Regions from separate parts of the Homo sapiens genome. Here region 2 is linked to region 1. A link means that fine-mapping ties the variant in region 1 to the expression of a gene that starts in the linked region. Tissue or cell type: whole blood. Region 1 holds a variant in brackets; the other region holds the start of a gene. All regions are shown on one strand. Distances are from middle to middle.

What was found. PIP is the estimated chance that this variant, and not a neighbour inherited with it, causes the effect.
Region 2: FNBP1 starts here. The variant in region 1 is fine-mapped to the expression of FNBP1 in whole blood (INTERVAL, PIP above 0.99).

Annotation. Positions count from the first base shown.
Region 1 is chr9:129,922,941-129,931,043 of GRCh38, forward strand. It overlaps FNBP1 (formin binding protein 1), which reads right to left. Exons shown (of 17, transcript NM_015033.3): 7 at 6,627-6,755; 8 at 4,255-4,401; 9 at 2,020-2,217; 10 at 904-1,086. Among named protein-coding and RNA genes, the nearest start is that of MIR6855, 57 kb to the left of the region's middle. The variant G/A (reference allele first, on the strand shown) is at 3,093.
Region 2 is chr9:130,038,350-130,046,452 of GRCh38, forward strand. FNBP1 (formin binding protein 1) reads right to left here and starts at 4,840. Exons shown (of 17, transcript NM_015033.3): 1 at 4,603-4,840. The coding sequence starts at 4,626. RefSeq lists an enhancer at 1,080-1,199 and silencers at 2,110-2,159, 4,203-4,362, 4,543-5,102.

The DNA of each region.
Region 1 (8,103 bases):
GAACTCCTGAGCTCAAGTAATCTTCCTGCCTCGGCCTTCCAAAGTGCCAGGATTACAGGCATGAGACACTGCGCTTGTCCTATTAATTTTTATATATTTTTTTAAGAGATGGGGGTCTCACTATGGTGTCCAAGCTGGTTTTGAACTCCTGAGCTCAAGCAATCCTCCTGCCTTGGCCTCCTAAAGTGCTAGGATTACAGATGTGAACTATCACGCCCAGTCTCAGGTCGCTAGTTTTAGAAATGAAATCTAAGTGGTTTTTTTTGGTAAAATTAAGGTAGAAAATGCATGACTTGGATGCTTTAAAGAGGAAGAGGGGTAAAGTCCTTCCAAAATGTACTAGAAACGAAAAGAAAAAGGCCGGGCGCAGTGGCTCACACCTGTAATCCCAGCACTTTGTAAGGCCGAGGCGGGCGGATCACAAGGTCAAGAGATCGAGACCATCCTGGCCAACATGATGAAATGCTGTCTCTACTAAAAATATAAAAAGTAGCTGGGCGTGGTGGCATATGCCTGTAATCACAGCTAATCAGGAGGCCGAGGCAGGAGAATCGCTTAAACCCGGGAGGTGGAGGTTGCAGGGAGCCGAGATCACGCCACTGCACTCCAGCCTGGTGACAGAGCGAGACTCTGTCTGGAAAAAAAAAAAAAAGAAAGAAACAAATAGAAAGAACTCTGGGCTGTCTGGTTTTCTCCTTTCTTCCAACCACCATGCTTCCTTCTTTCTTTCTTCCTCTTTCTGGCTTTTCTTTCTAGCTATAATGGTTTTTGTTTTTTTTTTTTTAACTTTTTTATATGTTATGGGAAAACACAATGGATTCATTCACAAACAAAATTAGTTATGCAGAACCAAACATGCAACCAAAGCACGCCAGAGAGACAGGATTCCGGAGCAGAACTTACCCCACGCTTTAGGCTCCTGAAGCAGTGGATTTTGGGTTTGGAGGTCATGAACTCGTTGAAGCGATGGGAGAGGGGTTCCTTTTGCTGCTTGGGAGACTGGGGGCCGTTGGGAACAGCAGAGGGTGAGGCAGAGGCAGGAGGGGGAGGGGGAGGCTGATGGGGGGATGTTAAAAGGGACATAAGCTACATGTAAGAGATGGAGCCGTGACAGAGTAAAAATCAGAAACAAGAAGACACAAAACAAAAATAAGCATCAAATAATATTTGAAATCCAACGCAAGTAAAACACAAACAATTAAATTTTAGGCCATGGTCCAAAAGAAAACATGTAGGAGGTGGTTAAATGAAGAATATGATGAGAGTTGGGAGGTTTAGTAAGTAATGCGACAGAAGAGCAAGAAATATCTGACAAGAAGCTCGTGCAGACTTTCCCATGCAAACTATAGCTCTAGTTAGTTACTCTAAACCAGCTTAAGCCAGAGGGTAAATATTTCTACATTACCTAAACTAACATAGCTTGATGGGAGAAAATGAAAGACCTTCAATGCTAAGGTTGTGGAAACAGCAGTCTGTTTAAATTAATAAATAGTAAGTCATTCTAAAGTTAAAGCAGTAATGCTGCCTTGATCATATTCTACGTCCCCAGGTTAATGCTGTCATGCACCTATGTATCGCACTATGAAAAGAAAATGAAAAATGTTCATGGGTACACATGTTAACATGAATTCAAAACCAAGTTATTAACATGGTAACGATTTCCAGTAGATGTGCGGATAAAGTGTTACAGGAATGTCCCACTACATCCTCTCTCCCAGCCAAGGTAACCAGCAGTCTAGGAGAGGAAGGAGGGAAAGGCATGAGGCGAAACGGTGGAGAGGTCAGTACTCTGTTAGTGTGGGAGTCACGGTACGAGGATAATGCATCTGAAATAAGACACAGGGCCATGGCAAAGATACCACCACCAAAAAGAAATACTGTCTCAACATAAGGTAGCACACTAGCTTCTTCTTTTGCATTCTGAAACTACAGGTTTAGGATCTTAGTTTTTCTAAGACTAAAAGATCAAGTCAAAATCTCCACACCTTAGAAAACTCATTTCACGCCAACCATCAGTACCTTATTTTTTTTGATGAACGGCCATAACTTTCCTTTGGATTTGCCACCAAATTTGAGGTCTGGTTTGCCTTCTCCTCTGGAATTTGAAAGGCTGTTATCTGACACAGTGCGCTTCATTGGCTGAGTGTAATCCTCAAATTCAATGTCTCCAGGAGGCTCAAACCCTGATTTATAAGCTTCTATTACCAGCTGTGAATCCTGAAATTATACCCACAAGCATATAAATACATTCAGAAGCATGCAAACACTTTTTAAACAATGAATTGGCCAGGTGCGGTGGCTCATGCCTGTAATCCCAGCACTCTGGGAGGCAGAGGCGGGTGGATCACGAGGTCAGGAGATCAAGACCATCCTGGCTAACATGGTGAAACCCCGTCTCTACTAAAAATACAAAAAATTAGCCAGGCGTGGTGGCGGGCGCCTGTAGTCCCAGCTACTCAGGAGGCTGAGGCAGGAGAATGGCATGAACCCAGGAGGCGGAGGTTGCAGTGAGCTGAGCTCGCGCCACTGCACTCCAGCCTGGGCGACAGAGTGAGACTCCATCTCAAAAAAACAATGAATTATGATGATCTCATACAGATGATAACTAACGAAATTGTACTGATTGATAATAACTTTTTTCCTAGTAGCTTTTTTTTTTTTTTTTTTTTTTTTGAGACAGTCTCAATCTGTTACCCAGGCTGGAGTGCAGTGGCGTGATCTCAGCTCACCGCAACCTCCGCCTCCCAGGTTTAAGCGATTCTCCTGCCTCAGCCTCCCGAGTAGCTGGGATTACAGGCATGTGCCATCATGCCTAGCTAATTTTTGTATTTTTAGTAGAGATGGGGTTTCGCCATGTTGGCCAGGCTGGTCTCAAATTCTTGACCTCAGGTGATCCGCCTGCCTCGGCTTCCCAAAGTGCTGGCATTACAGGCTTGAGTCACCACAGCTGGCCAGCTTTTTTCATTCTTCTCAAAAGCCATCATTTGAGCTTTTCATCCGAGCTTTTAGAATTTAGAACTATTGTTTTCTGATTTTTTTGTTTGTTTTTGAGACAGAGTCTCGCTCTGTCACTCAGACTGGAGTGCAGTGGC[G/A]TGATCTTGGCTCACTGCAATCCCTGCCTCCTGAGTTCCAGCAATTCTCGTGCCTCAGCCTCCCGAGTAGCTGGGACTACAGGGGCATACCACCACACCCAGCTAATTTTTGTATTTTTAGTAGAGATGTGGTTTCACCATGTTGGCCAGGCTGGTCTTGAACTCCTGGCATCAAGTGATCCACCCGCTCCGGCCTCCCAAAGTGCTGGGATTACAAATGTGAGCCACTGTGCCCAGCCAGCAGCATAACTTTTATGTTGAATATTTGTGTCTTCAAATTAACAGTAAAAGCCTATGCTGGTGTTCTAGTTTATATTTTTTTGAGAAATAGGTCTCTAGGAATTCAAATGGAGAACACTGCCCTAAAGCAGTATTCTCAACCAGAGAAGCTTTTGCCCTCCCAGAGGACATGTGACAATGTGTGGAGACATTTTTGATTGTCACAACTCGGGGAGTGCTACTGGCCTCTGCTGGGTAGAGGCCAGGATGCTGCTAAACATTCTGAAATGCCCCCAACAAGAAAAATGATCTGGCCTGAGATAATGTCAAAAGTGCTGAAGGAACCCTGTTTTGGCCGGGTGCAGTGGTTCACACCTGTAATCCTAACACTTTGGGAGGCTGAGGCGGGCGGATTACCTGAGGTCAGGAGTTCGAGACCAGCCTGGCCAATATGGTGAAACCCCGTCTCTGCTAAAAATACAGAAATTAGCTGGGCGTGGTGCGGGCGCCTGTAGTCCCAGCTACTCAGGAGGCTGAGGCAGGAGAATCGCTTGAACCCGGGAGGTGGAGGTTGCAGTGACCCAAGATCACGCCACTGCACTGCAGCCTGGGCAACAGAGCGAGATTCCATCTCAAAAAGAAAAAAAAAAAAAGAAAAAGAAAAAGAAAAAGAGAAAGAAACCCTGCCTTAGAGGAAACAAAGCCTTTACCTTTTTTCCAGGAAATACTTCAATTCAATTCTGTCATGTCTCGGACAATTTACCACTTAAATGTGTTTACCAAAAAAGGAATTATACAGCTAAATCCAAGACACAGAGCATGTGTGACCACCAAAAGCAACCATCCACCATGAGATGATGACATGAGGTCAAATGGAAAGGGGATGGGGAGAAATAATGGATCTGCAAATAGTTATCAATGAAGTCCAAATGGCAATACTTACATTTTTCTGATCAATTGATTCGGCTGCTTTTACTATTCCATCCAGGCACTTCCCAATGATTGGGATCACCTGCCGATCAACCTCTGCATATGTCTTCATGGACTCTCCCATTCTCACAATCCTCCTTTCCTCCATCTCTTGTATTTTCTGCAACATTAGATTTTGTATAAAGTAAGTTTGGTCCATTATTATTAAACAAAGTTGTTTTTCGGCAGCATTGTTACCTCTAACAAGTTCTCTTTGAGGAAAAAATGGGTTAGAGTTAGAGCGGCTCTAAGTACACGGAGCCTCCATATTACCCAGCTGTACATTTATTTTATAAATTGCTAGACATGTTAGGCTGCCCAAATATATGCTTTGCACAATTCCATTCTAATTTTAGTAAGAATGCCAAACTCAATAGTTCTTTTTTGTTTTTCTTTTTGTTTTTTTGAGACGGAGTTTTGCTCTTGTCACCCAGGCTGGAGTGCAGTGGTGTGATCTCAGCTCACTGCAACCTCTGCCTCCAGGTTCAAGTGATTCTCCTGCGTCAGCCTCCCAAGTAGCTGGGATTACAGGCCCCACCCCCCCTCCCCCCGCCACCACACTTGGCTAATTTTTTGTATTTTTAGTACAGATGGGGTTTCGCCATGTTGGCCAGGCTGGTCTCCAACTCCTTACCTCAGGTGATCCACCTGCCTAGGCCTCCAAAGTGCTGGGATTACAGGCTTGAGCCACCACACCTGGCCAATAGTTTTATTACTAACACTATTTGTAATCTACCTCAAACGTTTTCTCCATCTTTAATCTACTACTTTACCTTTTACCAAAAGCACAGTATTTAATTAACTGCCTCAGCCCAATACATGCTAGTGTATCTTCCAACTATAATTTACAAGGACTTGTTTGCTGTGTGTGTAGACACCAAGAAGCAAATATATTATTTATTTTTTCTACAATTGGACTCAAAGTTGCAAAAAATCTGTAAAATGGAAGAACATATGTCTATCTTTTCTCATACCATTTTTGACAACCTAACATGAGCAAAAGAAAACAATCCAAAAGAAAGAACTGTCATTTGTTTAAATCCTATAACTCTATGAATGCTGCTTTGACTTCTATAGTTAAGTTGGCATTTTTATAACCACAATCATCCCTTTAGCAAAGACAGCATTAATCACAGAATCATAGTTTAAGACTGACAAATAGGCGCTGTGGCTCACGCCTGTAATCCCAGCACTTTGGGAGGCCAAGGCGGGCGGATCACCTGAGGTCAGGAGTTCACGACCAGCCTGGCCAACATGGTGAAACCCCGTCTCTACTAAAAATACAAAAAAGGTAGCCAGGTATGGTGGCAGGTGCCTGTAATCCCAGCTACTCAGGAGGCTGAGGCAGGAGATTCGCCGGAACCCAGGAGGTGAAGGTTGCAGTGAGCTGAGATCATGCCACTGCATTCCAGCCTGGGTGACAGAGCAAGACTCCATCTCAAAAAAAAAAAAGAAAAAAAGAAAAAAAGAAAAAAGACTGACAAATAATTGGCTGCAGGTGCAAACTATAGAAATTTGCAAAGTTATTGATTAATCTTGAGATTATTATATTTCATTCATATTGCTAGTCAATGCTTGATCTAGATGCTTTAAAAAATGATTTATCATGCCTATAATCCTAGCACTTTGGGAGGCCAAGGCTGGAGAACTGTTTGAGTCCAGGAATTTGAGACCATCCTGGGCAACACAGCAAGACCCTATCTCTATAAAAAATTTAAAAATTAGCAGGGCATGGTGGTGCATGCCTGTAGTTCCATCTACTTAGGAGGCTGAACTTGGAGGATCCCTTGATCCTTTGAGCCCAGGAGTTCAAAGCTGCAGTGGGTCGTGATTGTGCACTGCACTCCAGCCTGGGCAACAGAGTGAGACTGTCTCAAAAAACAAAAACAAAACAAAACAAAAAAAAGGGCCAGGCATGGTGGCTCAGGCCTGTAATCCCACCACTTTGGGAGGCCGAGGTAGGCAGATCACCTGAGGTCATGACTTTGAGACCAGCCTGGCCAACATGGCAAAACCCCGTCTCTACTAAAAATACAAAAATTAGCCGGGCCCAGTGGTACGTGCCTGTAGTCCCAGCTACTCGGGAGGCTGAGGCAGGAGAGTCACTTGAACCTAGGAGGCAGGGGTTGCAATGAGCCGAGACTGTGCCATTGCACTCCAGCCTGGGTGACAAAGCAAGACTCTGTCTCAAAAAAAAAAAAAAAAAAAAAAAAAATTAGTGGAAATTTGGAATTATATAAAGACTCAGACTCAGAATACAAACCCAGCAATCACGATTCAGAAGTGTCATGTTTCTAAGGAAAGCAAAGCATAAAACATGAAATCTGAGAGATGTTCAGGACTTACCTGGAAGATGTTGGGGATGTGAGTATGGTAATATTCATGCTGCTCATGGTTGAATTTCTGGAGAATGGATGAGTAATCTGCTTTGCTGTCCTCTGCCATTTGGTGACGTATTTGAGCTTGTTGTCGGGCCTTAGGGCAAAAACAAGAATACTCCTACGTTTATACACCATAGATAAAAGCCTGGGTGCAATCAATAAAAGCCTAGAACTGCACACTGGGATGCCTAGGGGCCAGATTTACCTCAAATGTATTCCGCGGGTGCTTTTTAATGTTCTGAATTGAATTGACTTTAGGTAAGCAATGTGCATCCTAGTTTGTATAAACCTCCACCATTCCCTACTGCCTTAACGTGGCGTGTACCTTCTAGTTTGACACACCATTCTATACTGTCTGCACTTGGGCCAATTTACATTATTTGGATGACCCTTGTGGGAACCTCTGCTCATCTCATATACACATTTTTTTTTTTTTGAGGAGGGGATGAGAAATTCATTTTTTTTTTTTCTTTTTTTGAGACCAGGTCTCGCTCTGTCACCCAGGCTGGAGTGCAGTGGCACGATCCTGGCTCACTGCAGCCTCAACCTCCTGGGTTCAAGCAATCCTCTTACCTCAGCCTCTCAAGTAGCTGGGACTACAGGCGTGCACCACCATGCTTGGCTAATTTTTGTATTTTTTTTGTAGATAGGAGGTCTCACCACATTGCCCAGGCTATTCTTGAACTCCTTGACTCAAGCAATCCACCCGCCTCAGCCTCCCAAAGTGCTGGGATTATGGGCATGAACCACGGTGCCTGGCTGGGAAATCCATGAATTTTTAAACCCAGTTCTCAATGGGGTTCATGCACTAAAAAGGCATATGAACCACTGACCTAAGGAGACTTTTCTAAAGCTCTCTAGCATGTTTATATTTAGTATATATGCTAAAGAGGGAATAAGTATGGCAACTTCTTTATGCTTTTTATGTTTTTTGAGGAGTGCTATTTTATGTTTTACTGCATTGCTTTTCTCCTAAAAAATCAATAATTTACACATTTGTTTTTCTCTAATTCATATTCTGATTGATCACATACCTAAAAAAGGGGCAACAATTGTTGACTAGTTGCAGAATGGATTTTAAAGTTCAAACAGGAATGTCTATAAATTCTAAAGTCATCCAGAAGTACAAGAGGTTGTGCCGTTAATACCACCTTAGATTCACATAGCATTGTGGTGTTATTTTGATAAATATAATCTTGTGAATCTCTAACACAATTTGAGGTCCACACAAGGCAAAAAACTACCTCCTGCCAGATGAAGATAGGGTTTTTGGTCTTTAAGTGACCTGGCAAATTCACTGCAGTAAGCCAGAAACACAACAGGAAATAGGCTGTCTTCCAACATAACCAGGGCAACTATTTGTTTGTTTGCTTGTTTTTGTTTTGTTTTACTGAACCAATGTTTCAGAAAACTAAGACCTGGCTGGGTGTGGTAGATCACGC
Region 2 (8,103 bases), 120 kb after region 1:
CTCCGTCTCAAAAAAAAAAAAAAAAGACATACAATCAACACAGGTGGCTCTTTTTTTTTTTTTTTTTTGAGACAGAGTCGCTCTGTCGCCCAGGGCGGAGTGCAATGGCGCCATCTCGGCTCACTGCAACCTCCGCCTCCCGGGTTCAAGCGATTCTCCGCCTCAGCCTCCCGAGTAGCTGGGATTACCTGCGTGGACCACCACGCCCGGCTAATTTTTGTATTTTTAGTAGAGATGGGGTTTCACCATCTTGGTCCGGCTGGTCTCAAACTCCTGATGTCGTGATCTGCCCGCCTTGGCCTCCCAAAGTTCTGGGATTACAGGCGTCAGCCACCCACCGCGCCCAGCCCACATGTGGCTTCTTACTATGCTAACCAATATGCATTATTCAGGTTTCTCTGTTCTCTTTCTTGTACATACTTCATTTCTCATTAGCACCAGAGCAAATAAATAAAGACAGAGAGGATACTAGGAGGCAGCAAAACCAGGTTCTGTCACTGAATAATTTGTTAGCTGCAAAGAGAATAATTACGAGGAAGGCTTAATTTTCCAATGGATTTATTCATACTTCACACTAATAAGCAAGCTAATAAAAAGCTGAACTAACACTTCAGTAACCTGTCACTTCCCTCAGTAAGTAGGCAAGAAAAAAAAAACATTCAAATGTAAGCAACTCTTGCTTTGCCATTTCTCCAACAACCAGCCACAACTTCAACAAGTCAGTGAACATATTTACCTTACTAACACTGCCTTTTTAACAAGTCTTGAGTAAATGTATTTTGGTTAATTTTACATACAAACATTTTTCTTTTGACTCTGATGTTACAAGCTAGAGGTAAAACCTACTTTCTATGCTTCCACGTAGATATCTTTCAATGTATATAATGTAACTTACAACAGATTCAGACTGGTGTCTTGTGCACACCATAGTTGTTCAATAAAAATTTTGAAAATTGATTAAAAGGCAATGTTATGAAGAGCTATGTTATGAAGAGTTGTAAACTATTTTATTAGAACCCAATCACTTCAAAATGGCCATGTAAGCCTGGGCGAGGTAGCTCGCGCCTGTAATCCCAGCACTTTGGGAGGCCGAGGCGGGCAGATCACTTGAGGTCAGGAGTTCGAGACCAGCCTGGCCAACATGGTGAAACCCCATCTCTACTAAAAATAGAAAAAATTAGCCAGGTGTGATAATGCACACCTGTAGTCCCAGCTACTCAGGAGGCTAAGGCAAGAGAATCACTAGAACCTGGGAAGTGAAAGTTGCAGTGAGCCAAGATCGTGACAGTGCACTCCAGCCTGGGCAACAAGAGCGAAGCTTTGTCTCAAAAAAAAAAAAAAAAAGAAAGTTTATTTCTATGGAGGGGTTAAAGAAAAAGTAAAAAAGAAAGAGGAAGAGAAAGGTTTTACTCCCTCTACAAAGCAGGATGTGGCTTAGGAGCAGGTCTTCAGTGTAAAATGCACATTAGAAACCTGTAGTTTCTAAAAGCCTATATTGATTTTAACCTGAAGTCCTAAAATGTATGTAAAATCTGATAGTATTTGTGAAGGTCCCTGAAAGCTGCAACCACCTGTTACAAATAATTCATGGCCACCCAAACCATAGCTCTTTCTCCATCTAGAAGAATAATTCTGCCAAGTTTGGCTTGAGCGCCCCATCATTATCTCATTATACATGTGCATGATTCCAAAGCCACCATTCAAGGAAAACCCTTAATCACTGCCCTCCGCTGGGCTACCCAATGTACCGCACATCACCAAGTCTCTGACCACCGGAGAAACTGGGGTTTACTTTTCATAATCCTTCATTATTCTAGTTTTTTTAAATCTCAAAAGCTACTAAGCCTTATACATCTTTGCATTTCACCTGAAAACTTAGATTTTGCATTTCTCTTAGTAGCACAATCATGTGTTCATTCCTTTTCCTATATTAAACTGTAAGCTACTCAAAGGCAAATGCTGGTACTCATAAGAATGTCTTTTTTAACGTCAAGCGTGGTGGCTCACGCCTGCGATCCCAGCACTTTGGGAGGCTGAGGCAGGCGGATTACCTGACATCAGGAGTTTGAGACCAGCCTGGCCAACACGGCGAAACCCCGTCTCTACTAAATACACAAAAAAATTAGCTGGGCATGGTGGCAGGCGCGTGTAGTCCCAGCTACTTGGGAGGCTGAGGCAGGAGAATCGTTTGAACCTGGGAGGCAGAGGCTGCAGTGAGCCGAGATCACGCCACTGCACGCCAGCCTGGGCAGGCAACAGAGCAAGACTCCGTCTCAGAAAAAAAAAAAAAAAGAATGTCTTTTTAAAAACTCCTCATTGCCATACACTTGCATATATAGAACTGTTAACTGATTCATTCTTCCTCATAAAATTGTCAAGTGAAAAAATTACAAATAGTTCACATCCTTCTCCTTTAAAACTATTTTCCAATTATTTTTATTGTAGAAAATGTCAAATATATATACTAGAAAGAATAGTGTAATGAATACTTCTGTACTCAGCATTTGGCTTCAATAATGGCCAACTCTGTCTCACTATCTCCCATCTACTAACAACCCAAATTATTGTGAAGCAAATATAAGATTTCATATCATTAATATTTGTATATATTCCAGTTCCCATTTATTATTTTTTTCTTTTTTCTTTTTTCTTTTCTTTTTTTTTTTTTTAAGAGGAGGCCTCTCCAGATATTCCCCAAGCTGTTCTTGAACTCCTGGGCCCAAAAGATCCTCCCGACTCAGCCTCCCAAGGTGCTGGCAATATAGGCCTGAGCCACTGCGCCCGGCCTCTCTCATTTATTTTCAATCACTCCTAACCCTGCCTTCCTTCCCACTTCTGCACCCTCAAAAAGAAATGTACAGAATAATGCAAGCAATTGCCGCTGTTTTAGCAGTTTTGCTCATAGCCACTGCCTCTCTTTGGAATTATATTCTATCCCATTCACCAACATCACTGAACTGTCCACCAAGGTATTGTGTTCGGTCCCTATTTCACTCAGAAATATATTGTACATTTTCCCTCCATAATTCCATCCACCTGTCTGAACAAGTGAAAAAAAAATTGTGCCACAATTTCTACTGTCTTGACAAAGATTACTTCTGATTTGCTTCCCCACCCCAGATAAGCTAAAGAGAGCTAAAGGGAGTGGAAGGATTAGAAGAGGAAAGAAACTTCAATACGGTACTCAAAGTCATAGATTTTGCCTAAACTGGTGTGTGCAAATATTTTAAACTATTTTATTTTCAAAATGGATACTTGTAAACATCAGCGGAAATTTTGTCATGAATCCCTTTTAGGCAGAAGATGTTTATAAAATGAATTATCTTAATTTAAGGGAGCTATTGCCCTCAGGATTTTGGTAATAACAACCGTAGCTGCTTCTGTACCTAACAAATGGTTATGTAAAAACAATTAAAGCAAAAGAAAACAAAACAAAAAACAAGGGAGGATGTGCTCTGTTTCTGTAATTGCTCTAACCTTGTTTTATTTTGATATGAGATTTCTTGGCCTCATCTCAGATAGCAACACCACCCTACACTTTCTCCTCCACACCCTTTGCAAATAGAATTCCAAAAGGTAGTTCAGGCACTTTAGAGTTCATCCTGGGAAATGGCTCATCTTGAGGGCATTTCAGTGCAGTAACTGAGATTTCGTCTGCTCCTTCCCGGGCCGCCGCACTGCCCATCCCCTGCCCAGTGATTTCCCCAGGAATCCGGGGACGGCAGGAAAAGAGCTCCATCCACAGCCAGCCCCTCGCCTTTCCGGGGACGGCCCTCAGCCCTGAGGGCTGCCCGTTTACCGTGCGCATCCCCCGGCCAAGCATCCCCGCAAGGCGCCCCTCACCGCCAACTTTCCCCACTGGAAACTATTCTCCGAGCAACCGTTAAAGATCATTGACCCCGCGAACGCCTCTTCCTGAGGTAGATCACGTAAGATCTCTCCCTAACTCCCACTTTCCCCTCCAGACCAGACGTCGCAGTGCCCACATCCCACTCAGGATTGAGCTACCCCGAAAGAACAAGTGCGCCCGGAGCCGCCACGGGCCAGAAGTCCTCGCCTCCAGAGCGAAGACCGCACTCTCGCCCCAGCACCCCAAAACCCGACCCCCGGCGCTCGCCCCGGCCGCCCCGCTCCCGGGGAAGTGCCCGATCCGCCAGCGCCTCCGCGGAGCCAGGACAGAACTCGCGGCCGGGGCGCCCCGAGACCCAACGCAGCGCCGCGCAGCCGGGGCCTCCACGCCCCCACGCCCGGTCCCGGCCCTCCCCGGGCATCCGCGGCTCGCCCCGGGGGATTAGGGCTCGGCCCGACACACACGGCCCGCTCCGGGGCGCCGGGGACAGGGAGGCCCGCCCGCGCCGTTCCTCAGGCCGCCGGGGACCCGCACCAACTCCCCTCGCCTCCGAAGGACAAGCCGGCCCGCACCTCCTGCTCGGGCCAAGGCGGACGAGGGGCATTGGAACCCCGCCTCCTCCCCAGGCCGCGAGGACCCCGACCAGCGCGCCCTCGCCTCCGCCCAGCAGCGCGGCCCGCGCCCCCTCCCCAGGCCGCGGGGAAACGCAGCGCGCGCCCCGCATCTGCCCGCGGGCCCAGCCCCTCACTCACCCAGAGCTCGGTGCCCCAGCTCATGGTGCAGGGGACGCGAAGGGGCGCTCCGCGCGGCGGGCGCGGCTCTCTGGTCCCCCTCCCCGGCGATCCCTTTGCCCCCCGAGATCCCCGCGACGGCGGAAAGCCCGGAGTCCGCGCGGCCTCCTCCGGCTCGCAGCTCCTCGCCCGGGGTCTCCTCGGCGGCTCCTCCTCCCCGCCGCTCCACAGCAAAATGGCCCGAGGAAGCAGCAGCCGCGGCCGCCGCAGCGCCCGCCCGCCCTACACCCGGAGAGCGGGGGAGGGGCGGGAGGGGAGGGGCGGGGCCGGTCTGACAGCTCGCGCACGCGCGCCCGCCCCACCCCGGCCCGGCCCCCTCCCCCGGGCTCCCCCGGCCGGGTCCGCGTCGCCCTGGGGTCCGGAAGGACGCGGAGGGAGGTGTGAGGGACGGCGGGACCCGGATCCCTAGGACTCCCCCTGCCAATCTGGTAATGACTTCTTAGTGACCACTGTCTGCTCGCAGTACTAGCGCTTGCCTTGGAACGCGGCAGGCCCTGGGATCACCGATGCTCCGCCGCGGTCTGAGATCGCTCCCCTGCGCGTATCGCCGCTCTGGATTTAAGGACAATACTTTCCCCTGGCAGCCATGCGCGCCGAGCAGAGTCAGCCCGGGAGGCTCTTTTCCCACCGCCCGAGGGAAGCCCGAGAGTCCCGCAGGCTGGCGCGGTGGGAGTGGGGCGGTGGTAACTGCGCGCTGTGCGAATAGAGACGTCGAGGCAAGCGCGACGGCCTCGAGTGGCTAGGGAAAGAATCCAGGGGCGTGCACCCAGTGATTTCCAATCTCTGAAACCAGTGATTTCCAACTTGTTCAGCCAAGAAACTCTCAGGCGTGAAATCACGTTACCGCCTAGTGGGTAAAAGCAAAGGCGTGGGGTACACAGATAACTTGTTTGGTTCAAATCCAGCCTCCCGCACGTGCTGGCCGGGCGGAGGCGGACAATTGCTCCACCTCTGGAAGCGCAGAGCGCAGTCCACCAAATGGAGGCAAATAACGTGTCCATCTCACTGCCCGGCGGTGAGGATCAGGGGTGGGCCAAGGCCGAAGGTTGGTAAACCCAGCGCTCATTTTATCAGCAGACGGACTCCCTCTCTATATATCCAAAGGTCTGCACAAATGTTCCTGACAAGCTATGGAAAATGTTTGGAATTCCAACTCCTGAATCACTAGCCCTTTCCCCACAGCTTATCTTTCTCCCTCGGTTAATGCTACTACTGGATCCTTTTCTGAGAAACCGTGCGACTCCCAACATGGGCCCCCAGTTAAAAAATATTTTACGATGATGCATTTCTCCAATCCCACCCCACCATTTTCAACCTGCTTATCATTCTCCTCCATTAAAAGGTGGAGCTAACCCGGGTCTGGTGGCTCACGCCTGTAATCCCAGCACATCAGGAGGCCCAGGTGGGAGGATGGCTGGAGGCCAGGAATTTGAGACCAGCCTGGGCAACATCGCAAGACCCTGTCTCTACAAAAAGAAAAAAAAAAAAGTTAGCTGGGCATGGTGGCATGCACCTGTGGTCCCAGCTACTTGGGAGACTGAGACAGGAGGATCGCTTGAGCCTAGAAGGTTGAAGTTGCAGTGAGCCATGATGGTGCCATTGCCCTCCAGCTTGAGCAACAGAGCAAGACCCTGTCTCAAAAATATTAACAATAATGAATTAAAGCCGGGCATGGTGGCTCACGCCTGTAATCCCAACACTTTGGGAGGCAGAAGTGAGTGGATCATCTGAGGTCAGGAGTTTGAGAGCAGCCTGGCCAACATGGAGAAACCCCGTCTCTACTAAAAACACAAAAGTTAGCTGGGCGTGGTGACAGGGCGCCTGTAATCCCAGCTACTCAGGAGGCTGAGGCAAGAGAATCGCTTGAACCCGGGAGGCAGAAGTTGGAGTGAGCCAAGATTGTGCCACTGCACTCCAGCCTGGGTGACAGAGCGAGACTGTCTCAAAAAATAAAATAAAATGAATAATAATAATAAATTAAGAGGTGGAGCTACTAAACAAAAAACAAAACAAAAAAAAACCTCTTGCAGATAAACCTCCAACTCTACTTCCTTTGTTGGGCAGTTACAATAAATTTAAGTTGTCAAAACTGTTTTGGTCTGCCTTTTTTCAGTTACAACCCTCCCTTCCTGCCCACCCCCATTCTTGTGTCTGTATAAATATTTTGCTCTCAGTTACCAGGTCTGAATTCTCTTTCCTCCAGAGACTGCTAGATATATAACAATGAGAACGGCCAGCTACCTATCTCCTAAGGCAGATTAATAGCCAGAGTGAGTTGGAGGGGGAAATTCAAACAATGCTGCACAGTTTAGTCTGCTAAAATTTGGAAACGGTACATGCAATGCAGGTTTATCTAACAAGACATTGCCTCAGTAATCACCTTCCTGCCAGGGCTTGACTTTTTAGTCAAATACAATGATCTAATCTTGACCAAGTTATTGGAGACTTCTCAAAAACAGTGACCACTTGTGAAAATACTCTAATCAAGAAGTAAAACAACCTGCTGCTTTAAAGAGGAGAAAGAGGAAGAGGAAGGGACAGCAGAAGAAAAAAAGAGACCACATGAAGATGAAACTTTTTAAGACGAGTAAGCAGGAGATTGTTAGTTATAGGAAGGAACCCATTAAAAGCTGCCGCAGAACTCTATGGATGTGAGTTAATTATACAACACTGCAAATATCTTTAACTTCATTAAGCTTTGGCAGTAACTGGAAAATGCTTGAAAGTGTCAGAATCTTCAAAAAATAAAGGAGAGAGACACCAATGATCATGAAGCCATGAGATAAAATGAAATAAGCCAGCAGAAAAAAGGCTAAAATATAGCACAGCATTTTTTAGGAAGAACTAAATCCATTTCAGTTTCCCTTCAGAGCAGGAGGAAGTGATTCTAAGACAAGGAAGTATCCCCATTAACAAACTACTGTGACCTGACCTACTTAGGAATCAGTTTTCACCAGGGGTACTCTAAACTCTATGTAAACGCTGATATTATCTAGGGGGTTAATCTGGGTTGCAGATACTGGTTTCACCTCTCAGTAAAATCTAGGGAACACTGATTTACAAAATTATGATCTTGGTGTGATATTACAAAATATATATTTTGTCGTCAACCTTGTTTCCTGAAGTATAGCTCCTAAAATCCTTAAAAACCCCAAAATGATGTCTTTTTATATACTAATGAGATGACTGATGGCTGACAGTCCCTAAGTATTAGTACCTCAAGATGGGACTGGTCACCATAAAGACCAAGACAAGATTAGAGGTGTGGGACTTTTATCTGCACCCACACTGTCACTCCAACCTCCGGGGACTGGGGAGAGGCGCTGAAAGTTAAGTTGTTCAGTAATGGTCAATAGCTTAATCAATCATGACTACATAAAATAAAGCCTCTATTAAAACTCCAAAAAACAAAGTTCTGAGAACTTCCAGATAGCTAAACACATAAAAGTCCCTAGAGAGTTG